Linked DNA regions of Homo sapiens: region 1 is linked to region 2. The links come from fine-mapping of genetic effects on plasma protein levels. A gene starts in region 2. The other region holds a variant in brackets. All regions are shown on one strand. Distances are from middle to middle.

Evidence for each region. PIP is the chance, under the fine-mapping model, that this variant and not a neighbour inherited with it causes the effect. The UK Biobank Pharma Proteomics Project read protein levels with antibody pairs (Olink). The fine-mapping took linkage between variants from a reference panel, not from the people measured, so its PIPs are less certain.
Region 1: its variant is fine-mapped to the plasma level of the LAMP2 protein (UK Biobank, PIP above 0.99).

Annotation. Positions count from the first base shown.
Region 1 is chrX:120,432,148-120,439,013 of GRCh38, reverse strand. All of the region lies in intron 8 of LAMP2 (lysosomal associated membrane protein 2), which reads left to right. Among named protein-coding and RNA genes, the nearest start is that of LAMP2, 34 kb to the left of the region's middle. The variant C/T (reference allele first, on the strand shown) is at 4,011.
Region 2 is chrX:120,460,151-120,469,852 of GRCh38, reverse strand. It overlaps LAMP2 (lysosomal associated membrane protein 2), which reads left to right and starts at 557. Exons shown (of 9, transcript NM_002294.3): 1 at 557-747. The coding sequence starts at 684. RefSeq lists a silencer at 355-619.

The sequences.
Region 1 (6,866 bases), 29 kb after region 2:
AAAAACTATCAACTACAAATTAGTTGCCTGACTTTGGTTTTTCCAACCAAGGAATTTAAAACTGTTATTTTTACAGCAAAAGATGTGCAAAATCACTGGATTATAAGTTCTATTTTACTGTCTTGAATTAGTATTTCAGTGTTTTCATTTTAGACATTCAGACTAAAAATACACCGTTTAGAAAAAACAATTTTTGAAAAAGAGATTTTTTTTCCCTGCAGGTAGTTGAGTTGGAACAACATGTTCTACCGTGGATTTGTACTTGCTCCTTTTGCTCTTTTTGTGTGTGTGTGTGTGTGTGTGTGTGTGTGTGTGTGTGTGATTTTTGTTTGCAGGTTAACTTAGCTACTTTGGCATTGCTGCATATTTGACCTTTGAGAGATATAATAGTAGATTTGAACAGGGGCTGGTATTATTATGTTCTTAGCAATAAATGCTTTTCTAATGCCTTTTGAATACATTTGTATTTATGTGGCTGTAATGACAAAAGATACAAAAGCTTTTTAAAATTTAGAGTAGGTATTAATCTTATTGTTTAATCTTTTTTTTAAAAAAACTGGATATTTCAATCTTTTAAATTGCAATATATAAGACTATTCCAACTGGGCATTTCAATCCATTTTTTAGGTGCTTTAGAGATAATTGCTTGCCAGTGCCAATTGAGGGCATTAGTACTTTGTGCTCATAAATTGGCCTCTGTATGCAGTACTAAAATTAATGCAGATTTCTCTTTAGCCTTCCAACATTTCTTGTTGATAGTGATGTATTTTATTATTTTCTTTTTCTTAAGAAATGCCAGTGTGTCCTAGAACCTAGATAACGAAGTGCACTTACACTTATAAAATAACTTGCATCTAGGCTGGGCGTGGCGGCTCACGCCTGTAATCCCAGCACTTTGGGAGGCCGAAGTGGGTGGATCACTTGAGGCCAGGAGTTTGAGACCAGCCTGGCCAACATGGTGAAACCCCATCTCTATCAGAAATACAAAAAATTAGCTGGGCGTGGTGGTGGGCGCCTGTAATCCCAGTTACTCGGGAGGCTGAGGCAGGAGAATCACTTGAACCCGGGAGGCAGAGGTTGCGGTGAGCCAAGAGCGCACCATTGCACTCCAGCCTGGGCGACAAAAACGAAACTCCATCTCAAAACAAAACAAAACAAAACAAACAAACAAACAAAACTTGCATCTAACCAAAAAGTCTTGGTTTTATCTTAATCCATTAAAAAGTTGTTCTTTGTTTCCAGCTTGCATTGATTGCTACAACATCACTAATTTGGCTTTCACATTTAAATGGTTCTGTGCTAATCAAAACTTTCGTTGTTATTATTCATTATGGTAGAATCATTTTTAATTCACGTGCTTTGTGTTCAGTTTTGTGGTCTGAGAGATGTACCAATTGTCAAATTACCGTGTACCACCTAATGTTTATAGGAGAAAGCAAAATACATCAGCTTGGTAGTTAACACATCAAATATTTCTTGCTGCTTCTAGGAGAACTTTTTTGGTGTGTGTTGGAATGGCTGAGCAAATATTAAAATTGTTAATATGCAGCCATATATGGAAGGTTCCTGTGGGGTTGTTTTTTCGTGTTTTTTTTTTTTTTGTGGTGGGATTATGTGCCTCCCATTCACTAGAAAATGAGAAAATTGTCTGGGTTCCAAAATATTGACATTGAATGGATCAATACACACACACAGACATATATATATATATGCACACATATATAGGCAGTTGCATGCTAGCATGGGTATTTTTATAACAATATAACTGAGTTATATTGGAATTATAAATATTTTCCGTCACTTAAATTTGTTCTTTGTTTAGCCTGAAAACCTTTATGGCTCAAGATCAGATTCCTGACTAACCCCTCTCTTAGAGCTACAGCGAGCTGCATTACCAGCTTAAAACACTTCTTAGGGATTAAATATAGATGTAATTTTTCAAAATCGTTTTTAATTTAAACTGTGTTTTAGTGTAAAATTGTTAACCTTGTAAGATGGATAATGTGTATAAGAATGTAGGCCTTAACTATTTCACATGAGTCAAAACAAAGCAGCTTTAAAAAAATAATTGGAAGCACAAGTGCATGGCACTGACTGAATGCTGTTAATATTTCTAAAAGTTTCTACATTCAGATTATATGCCTGATTCATAGTAAAATACCTCTAATAAACACTGTTTTATAGAAAACCTGACTTCAGTGAATATTTTTGTATTTTACATGGGCCAGTTTATATACTGCTATTTACACTATTATTTCCTATAGCTACATGTTCTTTGTACCTTTTGTAGTTTTATTTGTATTACTAGATTCATACCTTGATGGTAACGCTCTATCTGGTTTTGGGTGTTTTTCATGTTTTAGCATTTGTATAAAGAAACTGGTCCATGTAAATACTTTCCATGTTTTTTCTTCAAATGTTTAAACCACTAGTTGATGTATGGTATCTTTAGATATTTGCCTGTCTGTTTGCTCAAAATTGCTTCTAAAACAATAAAGATTCTTTTATTTCTTAAGGCAATTTGCTTACCTTTTTTCCCGTTGGTTAAAGTCAAGATTTTGTATACTACATAATGGCAATTTCTTTCAAATGGAAAAACTTTAGAAATGTTTAGAAGTAGAACTGAATTATTTGCAAAATGTTCTGATGTTCTGTCTGTATATTACCATCTGGAAGAATAGTCCCATACATAGGCCTCGATTGATGCTAGGCAGGCTACAGAATAAGATCAACCTGGGAAGCGTTTTATAAAAATAGATTCCAGGCTGCATCCTTAGAGGATTTAACGTAGTAGGTCTAATGAGGAGACAGAGAGAGAGAGAGACAGAGAGAGAGAGAGAGAGTGTGTGTGTGTGTGTGTGTGTGTGTGTGTGTGTGTGTGTGTAAGCTCCCCTGCTGAACCTGATGCATAGTCAGTTAGGGAACCAGTGATCTAGAATATTTATTTCATAATAAAAGCTGCGGAGTATCTCTTTGTACACTTTTCTCAATTCCTAAGTTGAGGTTGATATTCAATATCTCTACATAGTAGCTTTACATTGCAGCCATACATATTGAGCTATTGATCTGAACCAACGTAGGATTGTGTGCAGTCTCTCTCTTACTTAGATCACTCTAAAATACTTGAGCCTTCCAGTTTCCATATACGGATAGTTACCTAGTCACCTTACTATATCACATAAGAAAACTTAGCAATGTAGCTGGTAACTTTTCTCTGAATTACCCAGTTAAGCCATGTGAATGCCAGTTAGTCATCACGGCTGCAAACTCTGCAGTTAACTACCATTGTCTTTGGCCAAGTTGTTTAACTTCTAGTGTCTCAATTTCTTCATCCAGTGGGTGGGGGCTTTAAAATCCTGCTACTCATTTCTTTGAGTGATAATTTGCATTTCAGAGGAATGCATCATAGTATTTCATACATCTTAGTATTTTAGAAGGAATCTGATAAGCTACTTGTTACGTATCAAGAACATACTATAAGTTCAGTGTAAAATGTACCACTTAAGTTTCCTGCAGTTTTTCAGGAGGAATTCTTATAAGACTTGGACATTTTTAAGATGATAGTATTTCATCTGTTTATTTAGGTAGATAATGTTAAATTGTCTTGGGCTCATCTTCCACCCATCTCCTTTTCTTTTACCCTGGTAGCTAACTTTCTGCGTTAATAATCACCATTTCTTGTATTTGAAACTGGTATAGATATTCATGAATGATATTGAGTAGCTTCACGAATCTTTTCAGATGCATGTGATTTACTTAACACAGTTTGATTATAGATATAAAATGTATATAACAAAATATCACCTAAGAATGTGCTTCTTAATGTGGATCCTTCCAAAAAGAAGTTTTGACTCGTTTGTTTGTTTGTTTTGTTTTGTTTGAGATGGAGTCTCGCTCTGTTGCCCAGGCTTGGGTGTGTATAGTGGTGTGATCTCAGCTCACTGCAACCTCCGCCTCCCAGGTTCAAGCAATTCTTATGCCTCAGCCTCCCAAGTAGCTGGGATTACAGA[C/T]GAGTGCCACCACACCTGGCTACCTTTTTATTTTTTTAGTAGAGATGGGGTTTTGCCATGTTGGCCAGGCTGGTCTCGAATTCCTGACCTCAAGTGATCTGCCTACCTCGACCTCCTGAACTGCTGTTATTATAGGCATGAAACGCTGTGCCTGGCCTCAACTGGTTTTTAAGAGAAGTTTTATTAGTTTTTGTTGTAAATGTATACCTCAGCTTTCCAGTTCTTGTGTTGAAAATTGTGTTTGAAAAATGTCTGAACTGGCAGAAAATTGAAGATTAACAGCATTTTTAATCTACATGAAACTTCTTACTGAAATTTTAGTGGCCATGGAACTTTTTAATCTTTAAAAATCTTTATTGCTTCTGTGGCTATTAAATTCTTCTGCAAATACACTTCTCTTTTCCCCAGAAGCATTTTCAATACAGCGTTAAGTATACATTAGGCAAGTAGATCAGATCAAAATGACTTATAGGATGAGATTTTCTTTTCTTCAGAATGTGATCCCATTAAAGTTACTGTTTTACCAACATTTTTTCCATTAACTAAATAATTTTTAAAGGTTGAATTCATACAATCAATAGTTATTATAAATTAATATTTCACATACTAATTGAGAGCATTTTAAGTAAATGACAGTATCTAGAAAGATCTTTGTATTAGCGGAATTGCCTTTTTGAGCTACTCTGAGAATATTTGTCTTACATGAAAGCCTTATTGGCAGTATTTATGAAAGTCGTTTCAGTACTAGGTCAAATACCCAATTTGGGAAAGAGAGAACTATGAGTCTGTTGCCAGAATAAGAAATTAATCTACTAATGAATTTTTAAAAAACCAAGTTATATTAAACCCACGGCATAATACTTTATGGTACATGTCACCTAATAGTTTATGGGCTGGGTGGTAATTTGGGAAATTGTAGGGGAGGTGCTAACTGGGGATTCTTAACACCATCTATTCACAGGTCACATCTGGCAGCCTCAGCTCTCTGGATTCTTAACAGAACCAAGAAGCAAGTAAAACAAATAATTGAACTGGCAGCCCAAGTCAATGTCAGAAAAGTTTATAAACTCCAGGGTTGCATTTTGTTCCTAGTTATTGCCCCAGAGGCTAGTGGGGGCGGCGGGGAAAGCTTGGCACATTTCTTGAATGCAAGCACAATCAGAATTGCCATGCAGCCTATTTGTCCTATCTTTGATACAATTCTAATAAGCTTAGTTATCTGATTTATCAGTCCCTGGTAGACTGCAAGCTAGGCAGAGAACTAGGGCAACAAGACACAGGAAATGGGAAATAGAAATAGCAGTTAACTTCTTTCCTGCAAGTGTATCCATCTGTAGCATTCCTTCCTCCTCTCCAGTCTCAGAGTAGGTTTTCTTTTCCTGGTTAAACTGAGGCAAACAGTTATGTCATCAAGGCCCATTTATATCTCTTTTCCCATTACTAAGTGACCCCAGATTGTTATGTATTGAGTTCTTAATGTCTTACGCTTTTGGAATTCAATCTCTTAACTTGTAGGAGAACTTGTACCATTCAGCATCTTCTGTCAATTGCTAATGGCTGTTTCCCTCATCCTATTTAAGTTCTTCTAACCTTAAGCTATCCTTTCTTGTCCCTATGTCCCCCTTCTAATTACCTCCCTTTTGTCCTGCCTTAATCATTCTAAACTTCTCAAAATGAGTATTGTATTTGTTACCCTGCCCAAGTTCTTGATGTCCTAACCAATCACTTCCCATTCCCTCTTAAACCTGCAGCAATTTTACTCATATCTCCCACCCTTCATATTGCTAGAGGCAATGGACATGTTTCAAAGCTTTCTACTATTATTTGCTGTCTTTCCACCTTAATTGAAACGTTCCATCCTTAGCTTCTCTGGCGCCATTTTCTATCTGCCCTTTTACATCTTTTTCCTACTCCATTGTCTATCCCACAGGTATTGGTGTTCCCAAGGGTTTTTGTCTCTGATCCTCTTTTTATTCTACTTCCCCTTACTGAGAAATGTTCTTGCCCATGTTTTAACTACCACTTAGGTTCATATAGCCACTTGGTTAGGACATAGTGATTTTTTTTTTTTTTTTGAGATGGGTTCTCGATATGCTGCCCAGGCTGGTCTTGAACTCCTGGGCTCAAACAGTTCTCCCATCTCAGCTTCCCAAGTAGCTAGGACTACAGGCGTAAGCTACCATGCTCAACTAAGGACACAGATATCTTAAACTCACATATCTAAAACTGAGCATCTCTCTCTTCCACGTATCCTTTTTACCACCTGTTCCATATAACTACAAAAAACTGAAATGCATATATTCTTCCTCTTTTATAGAATGGCACCAGCATCTACATAATCAGTCAAGTGTGGAATTGGAAACCATTCTATTATCTCCTCCTCGTACACCCCCTACATCCGTTTGGTCAATTTTGCCTTCTAATTTGATCTCCAGTCTGTGCCTTCTGCTTTTCTTCTGCACTTCATTAATCCAGCTCAGGACAATATTATTGGTTACCTGGACTCTAGTGATAAAGATATGTCCTACCTTACTACCTCCATCTGCCATAACTTCTGAAATGAAATCCTGCTTAATATCCTGCTGCTGAATTTTTTTTTCATCAGGATAAGGCCAGACTACCTAAGAGCATATAGTACCTTTGTGACCTGGGTCCCTGCACACTTTTTCTGCCTTCTATCCAGCCAAAAATACCTTTTGATCCATTGTTCTAGCTCTGCCAACCTGCTTGCGTTTCCCTTGAAGTGCTATGTCTTTTTACTCTCCATATTTTTGTCTGTGCTATTTCTTATACCTGGAATGCCCTTCCCCCATTACTTGCATCATTAATTCCTATTCATTCTTAAAATCTCAGCTC
Region 2 (9,702 bases):
ATGTCCTTTGCAGGGACATGGATGAAGCTGGAAGCCATCATCCTTAGCAAACTAACACAGGAACAGAAAACAAAACACTGCATGTTCTCACTCATAAGTGGGAGTTGAACAATGAGAACACATGGACACAGGGAGGGGAACAACACACACGGGGGCCTGTCAAGGGGTGGGGGCCAAGGGGAGGGAGAGCATTAGGAGAAATACCTAATGCATGTGGGGCTTAAAACCTAGATGACGGGTTGATAGGTGCAGTAAACCACCATGGCACATGTATACCTATGTAACAAAGCTGCACATTCTGCACATGTATCCCAGAACTTAAAGTAAAATTAAAAAAAAAAAAAAAAAAGAAAGAAAAAGAAAAAGAAAATGCCGTCCGCGCATATCTCTCAGGAGCATAGGAAGGGCTGTGAACCAAAAAGCCAGGGCGTGGTCGCCCCGCCCACCGGCCGCTACATCACCACCCCTCTCGCCGCTTTCAAGCGCGGAGATTGGCTGTAAGCAAGAAAGAGCCCCGCCCCTAGTCTTATGACTCGCACTGAAGCGCCGATTCCTGGCTTTTGCAAGGCTGTGGTCGGTGGTCATCAGTGCTCTTGACCCAGGTCCAGCGAGCCTTTTCCCTGGTGTTGCAGCTGTTGTTGTACCGCCGCCGTCGCCGCCGTCGCCGCCTGCTCTGCGGGGTCATGGTGTGCTTCCGCCTCTTCCCGGTTCCGGGCTCAGGGCTCGTTCTGGTCTGCCTAGTCCTGGGTGAGTTGTCGGGCCCTCCCGATTAGTCTGTCCGCCTGGGCCCGGGGCACCAGTTCAAAGCTACAACCTGAAAGACTGGTCCGAGGGGGAGGGGGTTGAGAGGCTCAGCAGCTAACACTGGGCGGCGGCGGTTGGCCCGGGGAGGCAAGCGGTGACCTAGAGAAGGCCTGACCGACGGATGGCGGGGAAGAAGGGCCCAGGAGAGTAAGAAGGGGCCGGTAACGGGGGGTGGACGCCGAGGGAGTAGGCTGGGAGGAGTGAAGCGTGGAGAGGGTCAGCGTGGAAAGAGTAACTTGGGGAAAACACTGAGGAGTGAGCGTAGGAGGGTGGTACATGCAGATTTTGGGCGCCAGAGACAATTAGGAGAGTCTTGGTTTGCTGAGATCAGGGAAGAGTTTTGAAGATGGTGGAAAAACTATGGGGTGAGATAGGAAATTAAGAGAGAAGACCATGCCTGCCTGGAGTAGCTTGGGAGAAGTGTGTGGGTGGGGGACAGATGGGACAGATAGGACAGTAGAGCCTGAGGGGCAGGGGCAGTGACAGGGTTGGGCATTTTGAAGGTTGGAATTTGAGACTGTGAAGAAAGGATGATTCAAGAGATTAGGAGTGATGCTGGGTTTGAGTTTGGTAGTCATAGTTTTAAGGGCGAAGGAACCTAAGGTAGCTGGGGCAATTTCCAGGAAAGAAAACTTGGACCCAACCTCTGGAGACTAAGGGGTTCAGGGGGAACTTTGATGGGGAGTGCACATCTGACTTGGAGGTATTGAGGATGTCGATTTTCTCCCAGTTTTGCTACTTCCTCCCAGCCAGACGCTGACAAAAAAATCCCCAGACGTTTCAGTTAGGAGGGCCTCCCAGATGTGAGGTTTTGGGGGTGGAGTATTTGAGTTTGGTAGACTACCTCTTTGCCTTCAGAGTTTCTTCTTTTCTTTCTTCCCCATCACACAGCTAGCCTATTACCTCATATTTTGGGGGTGCAGGGAGCAGGTAGACAAACTTGCTAAGGATTGGGTTGTTACCAGGGCCTAAGAATGGCTGGATGGGGCCGGGCGTGGTGGCTCATGCCTGTAATCCCAGCACTTTGGGAGGCCGAGGTGGGTGTATCACCTGAGGTCAGGAATTCAAGACCAGCCTGGCCAACATGGTGAAACCCCGTCTCTACTAAAAATACAAAAATTAGCCGGGCGTCGTGGCACATGCCTGTAATCCCAGCTGCTTGGGCGGCTGAGGCAGGAGAATCGCTTGAACCCAGAAGGCGGAGGTTGCAGTGAGCCAAGATTGCGCCATTGCACTCCAGCCTGGGCGACAAGAGTGAAACTCTGTCTCAAAAAATAAAAATAAATAAATCAATAAATAAATGGCTGGGTGAATGTTCGCTGATTGTGTTGTGCCCTAATAGGCAGTGGGTCGCTAACAACTTTAATGCCTAAAAGTGAACTTTGACTAAAGTGTCTCTTCCTGACTTTGATTCATGCTGTGCTTGTTGCTACCCACCTGCTCTTGCTATTTGTGACTTAATAAAATAACATAAAGAACAGACCCAGATGGGAGTGGGGAAGAAATAGACATATTAGGGGTCTGAGAAAGCAGTGAGAGGTATACATTTTGTAATTCACATTTCAGTAGAATGAAATCAACACCCTGGAATAGTGATTCTCAACCAGGGGACATTTGGCAACATCTGGAGACATTTTTGGTTGTAACAACTGGGGGATTGCTTTTAGCATCTAGTGGGTAGAGGCCAAGGATGCTGCTAAACATCCTAACTAAGCACAGGGCAGCCCCTGACAACAAAGAATCATCTCCCTGAAAATGTCAATGGTGCCAACATTGATAAATCCTGCTCGAAAACCATAGTATTGGAAGGGTTCTTGATTATCTAATTCAGTGACTCTCGAGGACCTTTTCATGCGTCTGTGAAATCAAAACTTCGGAATAAGGTTAAGAAGGTATTTGTCCTTTTCTGCTGGGCACAGTGGCTCACGCCTGTAATCCCAGCACTTTGGGAGGCTGAGGCGGGCGGATCACCTGAGATCAGGAGTTCAAGACCAGCCTGACCAACATGGTGAAACCCAGTCTCTACTAAAAATAGAAAAATTAGCCGGTGTCGTGGCACATGCCTGTAATCCCAGCTACTTGGGAGGCCGAGGCAGGAGAATCGCTTGAACCCAGGAGGCGGAGGTTGCGGTGAGCCAAGATTGCGCCACTGCATTCCAGCCTGGGCAACATGAGCGAAACTCTGTCTCAAAAAAAAAAAAAAAAAAAGAAGTTATTTGTCCTTTGTCCTTTTCACTCTCATCCTCTCACCAGTGTACAGCAGAGTTTTCCAGTGGCTACGTAACATGTGATGACCTCACCACTCTGATGTTCTTATATTTTATTCATTTCTCAGTTTTAATTTCTAATACTGTAAATACCAATACATATGACTCACATAAACCTCTGTGAAGTCCTCAGTGGATAAGAAAGTAAAGGGGTCCTGACACCAAAACTTTGGGAATCCCTGATGTAGTCCAACTGTTCACAGCGCGCAGGAAACTCTTCTGTAGCACTTCTGAAAGGCGGCCTTGAGGCAGGCTTTGCTTGAATACTTAATTGGAAGCCTTAACTGTACCTTGGAGCACTTACTGAGGGCCAACTGACCCTAAGAAAGGATTGTTTACAATGGAAAGTACCTTATCAGTGACTAGAACACATCTGACCAAGGCATCTGTTAATCAGTAGTTCCCTGCCAATTGAATCTGTGCACAAATACAACACTGTTATTGTTTTGGGAAAGTGAAAAAAATAATAGTTGTCCTACTTGTTGGCTTTCATGTCATTAAATTTTTTTTTGTTTTTTAATGAAAGCTTTTTTGTTTTGTTTTTACAAAAGCAATGCTTACTCACTGCAGAAAATAAACATGCAAAAAGAAGCACATAAAAGAACCCATCAGCTCATCTGCTAGTTTGCCATTTATTGATCAGGACTAACTAGATTCTTCCTCTTGGAAAATTTCCAAGATTGATTCCCTCCGCCTCCAAGTTCAGAGCAGGATTTGGAAAAGTAAATATTAATAATGTACCTAGATCTGATTTTTAAGAGGTTCCAGGATGAAATAGAAACCATTTTTCTATACAGCTGCATTTTCTGATGGCTCTTGGTTCAGTGTGGAGCCCAAAGTCCTCCCATATAGCTTTTTCTGTCAAGAATTTAGCAGTTGCTTGGTGGGTTTTGCACAAGTTACTTTTCTATATCAAAATGGATACCAATAATAGGTTTTTGAAAACTTAATAAATATTTGTAAAGTACCTAATATGTAGCTAAATCAATAAATATTTGTAAAGTACCTACTATGTAGCTAGAACTGTGCCTGGGTACTGTACGGAGTGCCAATGAAGGAGGACCTGTCCTAAATTTATAGTCTTATTAGCATTAGTGCTCTAGCTGTGCCAGTTTGACTTTGTAACTTTATAACTCTATCCCAGCTTCACCCATAACCTTTTAAAAACAGCAGCTTTAGAATAAGTACAGAAAAGGATTCTTAGAGGCTATATATTGGTCTTTTTCATAGAGATTAAATTATGCTGGTGTTTATTTGGATGAATTGTAACTGACCAGACAACTTTCCGAAGAGAAGCTATATGATTTAGAGGTGTTATAAAGTGGATAGTGGGTGAAAATCCTTTCTTTATATAATTGCCTAATTATGGTCCTTTTGTGATATCATAGATTTCAGGATTCTTCTGTGGTTATTGATTCTTATAACTAGCTTGACTTCTGTTTTTTGGTTTGTTTGTTTGTTTTTTTAGGGTTCAGAATTTTTTTTTTTTAGGTTTGAGGCTTTTCTGGGTGGGAAAAACCTCACAGAAATATTCTTAGTGTATGTTACTGGTAGGAGCCTCTCCCTTCCACACGTTTACTGAATGCCTATTGTGTCCCAGCCACTATATTAGGTGAAAGGGACAGAGGAATGGATAAGACAGATGAGGTTCCTGCTCTCATGGAGCTTACATTTTAATGGGAGAAGAAAGCTCAACAGATAAATAATATAATGTCAGATAGTGATAAACACTATGAAGAGGCCGGGCATGGTGGCTCACGCCTGTAATCCCAGCACTTTGGGAGGTCAAGGTGGGCAAATCACCTGAGGTCAGGAGTTCGAGACCAGCCTAGCCAACATGGTGAAACCCCATCTCTACTAAAAATACAAGGGCATGGTGGCCAGCACCTGTAGTCCCAGCTACTCGGGAGGCTGAGGCAGGAGAATTGCTTGAATCCAGGAGGTGGAAGTTGCAGTGAGCCGAGATCATGCCACTGTCCTCCAGCCTGGGGGACAAGAGCAAAACTCTGTCTCAAAACAAAACAAAACAAAAACACTATGAAGAAAATTACACAGGTAATGAGAAAGGAGAATGAGTAGATGATAGGAATGGGTGATGGTGGATGATCCTTCTTTATATTATGTGGTCAGAGGGCCTTCCGTTATCGGGTGACATTTGGGCAGAGACCTGGGTGTTGGCAGGAGGCCAGCCATGTGACCATCTGGGGAAATAGGAATAAATCTTATCATTTGCAAAATCTTAGGTTACTAGCCTATTTTCCACGCTTTTTTGTTTCCCCCTAGTTTTAGTCAAGTCTCTCCTATGGTAGCAGTCTCTAAGAGCAGAGACGATCTTATGTACTGTTACTTCCCATTGCCTACCTAGCATAGGGTCTGGTACATGGTTAACCCGTAGTGAATTTTTGTTGAAGATATTCATTGGTGGGCACTAGGGATATGGTGGTAAACTAGACTCATTTAGTCTCCTTTTTCTTCCATGAATTTTAAATGATGTTTTGCAAGAAGTTCTTTTGGATTGAAAACTTCAAGATCAGTGCTAAGCAGTACGGATAATTATACAGTAATTTACTAATGTATAATCCCATATAATAATGCTAGTTTCTTACCTGTACTCCTTCAGATATACCTCCGTAGTCTCGAAGGGGGTAATATGGAGAATTAGGAGTTCCTTGGTGAGGAGAGTTAGGTTTTCACAAAGTTAGGTTTTCTCTGAGAGAAAACAAGCACTAAGATTTTTCTATAGGCTTAACACATTTCATTTAACTGATAACTTTGATTTCGAGGTTCTGCCAAATTATTCTAGTTATAATAGAGATACTGTAAAGGACTGAAAAATTCTGAACCCTAAAAAAAAACAAAAAAAAAACGAAAAACAGAAGTCAAGCTAGAAGATAAGAAAGGACAGGCTTGTTAGTTTGTTAGTCATTGATTATCACATCTGATAGGGTTATAGATATTCAAATATGTCCCAAATACCAGATTAGTTTGTTAGTCATTGATTATCATATCTGATAGGGTTATAGATATTCAAATATGTCCCAAATATCAGATTGTCACATCTGATAGGGTTATAGATACTCAAATATGTCCCAAAAGAACAGCTTTCTTCCCCTATATCTTTGGGTAGATTTTGTCTATAACCAAGCATTATTTCGTAGCACTGGAGCTGATTTAAATGACCCTTGATGCAGGAAGGCTGCTCTTCTTTCTGTAGTGCAAAAGTATTCTGATCATAATTTCTTATTAAAGTGATCAGAGATCCCCTCAGACCCAAAAGTATACTTTATAAGTACTTGTTGGTATCCTGCTGTGCATTGTGAAAGAATTCTGGAGGTGTGCCAAACACTGCTCAACAATAAGCACTTTCCATTAGTTGAGTAGTGTTGAATCTTGTTTCCTTACCCACTCTTTGGCCTTAACAAATTAAGTCATTTTATAGCTTAAAAACATATTTTTATTAACTTTTAATACTCTTTTTCATGTGTTCAACATTCTTACTTTAAAATCATATTGCTTTTCTCCTTTAAGAAACTTACCAAAAGCAAGGGTATAAAGTAACTGAATGCAATGAGTGTACCTATTATTAGGAATTATAAAGGAGAAACAGTTAATCTGACTTAAACTTGTAGGAAAACCATCACTCTGAATAGAAAACAAAGATAAATAGGTACCGTATGCCTCTGTGTCCTGTATTTTAAAAAGACCTTTTGCTCAACATCATTCTAAATTCATGAGTTTGAGGACAAGAGTCCAGAATTTAATATGATGAAAGTAAACATAAAGCTAAAACTTGGGAAGGTTCCCTTTAGGTGCTGTGTTTACTAAAAAGGAGACTTGTAAATTGGTATCTAACTTGTTTGGCAAATTTCTTTTAGCTCTGAAGGGTTTATATGCTTTCAAAGAACCTATTGGAGAAATATGCACTATAATTCTAAACAAGGGTAACTTGCCCAAAGTCTCACAGCTAGGAAGTTGGACTGCCAGATTTGAGTTCTAGCTCTTCCACTCCAGGAATGGGGACTCTTAATCACTTCATTATATAATCAATCCATTGTATCTTGGATCATTGTTTGGTTTCTTTTTATTGGTTTTGTTTTATTGCTAGCATTATGTTCTTCCCCCACCCCTAATTTTGTGTGTTTATGTTTTCAGCTATACTTTGGGTCAAATAGACTTGCAAAAACCTAGCCACTTTTTGCAGTGTCATACACTTGGGGAAGTAAGGTCTGTGTTCTCTGTGAGAGGTTTTTTTTTTTTTTTTTGACAGGGTCTTGTTCCATTCCCCCAGCTGGAGTGCAGTGGAGTGATCTTGGCTCACTGCAACCTCTGCCTCATGGGCTCAAGCGATCCTCCCATGTCAGCCTCCCGAGTAGTTGAGACCACAGGCATGCACCATCACACCCAGCTATTCTTTTGTATTTTTAGTATAGATGGGGTCTTGCCATGTTGCCCAGGCTGGTCTTGAACTCTTGAGCTCAAGTGATCTGCCCCCCTTGGCCTCCCAAAGTGCTAGGATTACTGGTGTGAGCCACTGCCCGGTCAAGGTCTGCATTCTAAAAGAATTTACAAATGACCTTTTTGGAAAACAGGATTGAGAGGATATTTGACTTTGAGAACGGTTGATTTTGAGGCATACCTTTTTCTTTTATTTAGAGAATAAACTCTCAGCTCTAAAATTACACACTCTAGAATATATTCATCTATGGTTTTTTAATGTCATAAAGCCTTTTAAAAATTGGGTATTGTAAAATCAAACACAGCAATAAGGATGGAAATTGCTTGCTAGATACTTTTTAATAAAGTGTAAATATTTCAACTGTAAACTTACCTTTTGGGAAAAGCTCTGTTCCTAGCTTGACATCCATGTCAAAATTTATTGAAGTGAAACCCAACATGGGGTTTGAGGGAATATCCAGAAGACTGATATGTTCAAGATTTGGAAGAGCTAAAGGACTGGCCTCTCTGTAATTAGATTAAGCTATGTTTTGGGTCCCTATTGCAGTGTGTTTTCACCTTGATATAATTAATCAGTATTTATTGAAAATCTAATATGCATTCAGCACTACTTGGAATGATAGGAGATAGAGGAAAAGTAATACACATGGTGTCCCCTACCATGACACTCATGATAGATGACATTCATATAAAAGACACACTGCTAGGGGTTGTGGGATACATCAGATCATCTGATCAAGGGAGCATACTGGAGTTCAAACGAGTGACAGAAATGTTATCTAAAGGGAATCTTGAATCTATCCATATATATCATTCATTCACAGACTTGGTACTTTTTTTATTAGTAACAAATTACTTACTGTATACTATAATTTACCATGGCACACCAGTTTGTTATGAAGTGACAGTTGAAAACTGCTGTGTTGGAGCTTATGACAGTAGGAGGGACAGGATTTACTGCTATAAAATAACTGAATAATTCAGGATAATGTAAAATATACTGAAATGGGATGTGCATTATTACTGCTCCTTGAGGGCTTTTATAGTCAGGGAAAGCTTTGTGGAGAAAATGGCTACTGAAAAAACAGATAGCATATCAGCCCAGGTTCTTAATTGCAAGGAAGAGAAATACAATCTGATTGATTTTAAGCAGAAAAGAATTTATTAAAAAGAACTGGGATATAATGCATACCCTTTGGCCCCACAGTTTCATTCCTAGATATACAGCCAACATACACGCATACATGTGTTTACTAATATGTGCAAGAATGTTTGCAGCAGTGTTTGTAATAGAATCACACTGGAAACTAAATGCCCATTAAAGGTAGCATAGATAAGTAGTTTTTTTGTTTGTTTGTTTTTGTTTTTTTTTGAGACAGAGTTTCATTCTTGTTGCCCAGGCTGGTGGAGTGCATTGGCATGATCTTGGCTCACTGCAACCTCTGCCTCCCGGGTTCAAACGATTCTCCTGTATCAGCCTCCTGAGTAGCTGAGATTACAGGCATGTGCCACCATGCCCAGCTAATTTTTATATTTTCAGTAGAGGTGGGATTTGGCCATGGTGGCCAGGCTGGTCTCGAACTCCTGACCTCAAGTGATCCACCCTCCTTGGCCTCCCAAAGTGCTGGGATTACAGGCGTGAACCACCCCACCTGGCCTGTATTCACCTGATCATAGAAGGTTATACAGCAGTGAGCACAGACTGCAATTATGCATAACATGGGTGAATCTCACAAAACCTAAAATTGAGGAAAGAAAGCAGACACAAAAGAGAGCATAGTGAATGATTTTATTTATATCAAGTTGAAAAATGGATAAAATTAATCTATAGTGTCAGAAATCAGGATAATGGTTACCCTTGGGAAGGGAATAGTAACCCTTGGGAAGGGAAAGGGAAATAAGGAGGGCTTTGGAAGTGTAGTTGACCCTTGAACAACACAAGTTTGAACTGTGTGTGGATCTACTTATACATGAGTTTATTTCACCTCTACCACCCTGAAGACAGCAAGACCAACCCCTCCTCTTCCTCCTCCTCGTTATGATTTTTTTTTTTTGAGACGGAGTCTCTATCTGTTGCCCAGGCTGGAGTGCAGTGGCGCGATCTCAGCTCACTGCAACCTCTACCTCACAGGTTCAAGCGATTCTCCTGCCTCAGCCTCCCAAGTAGCTAGGATTA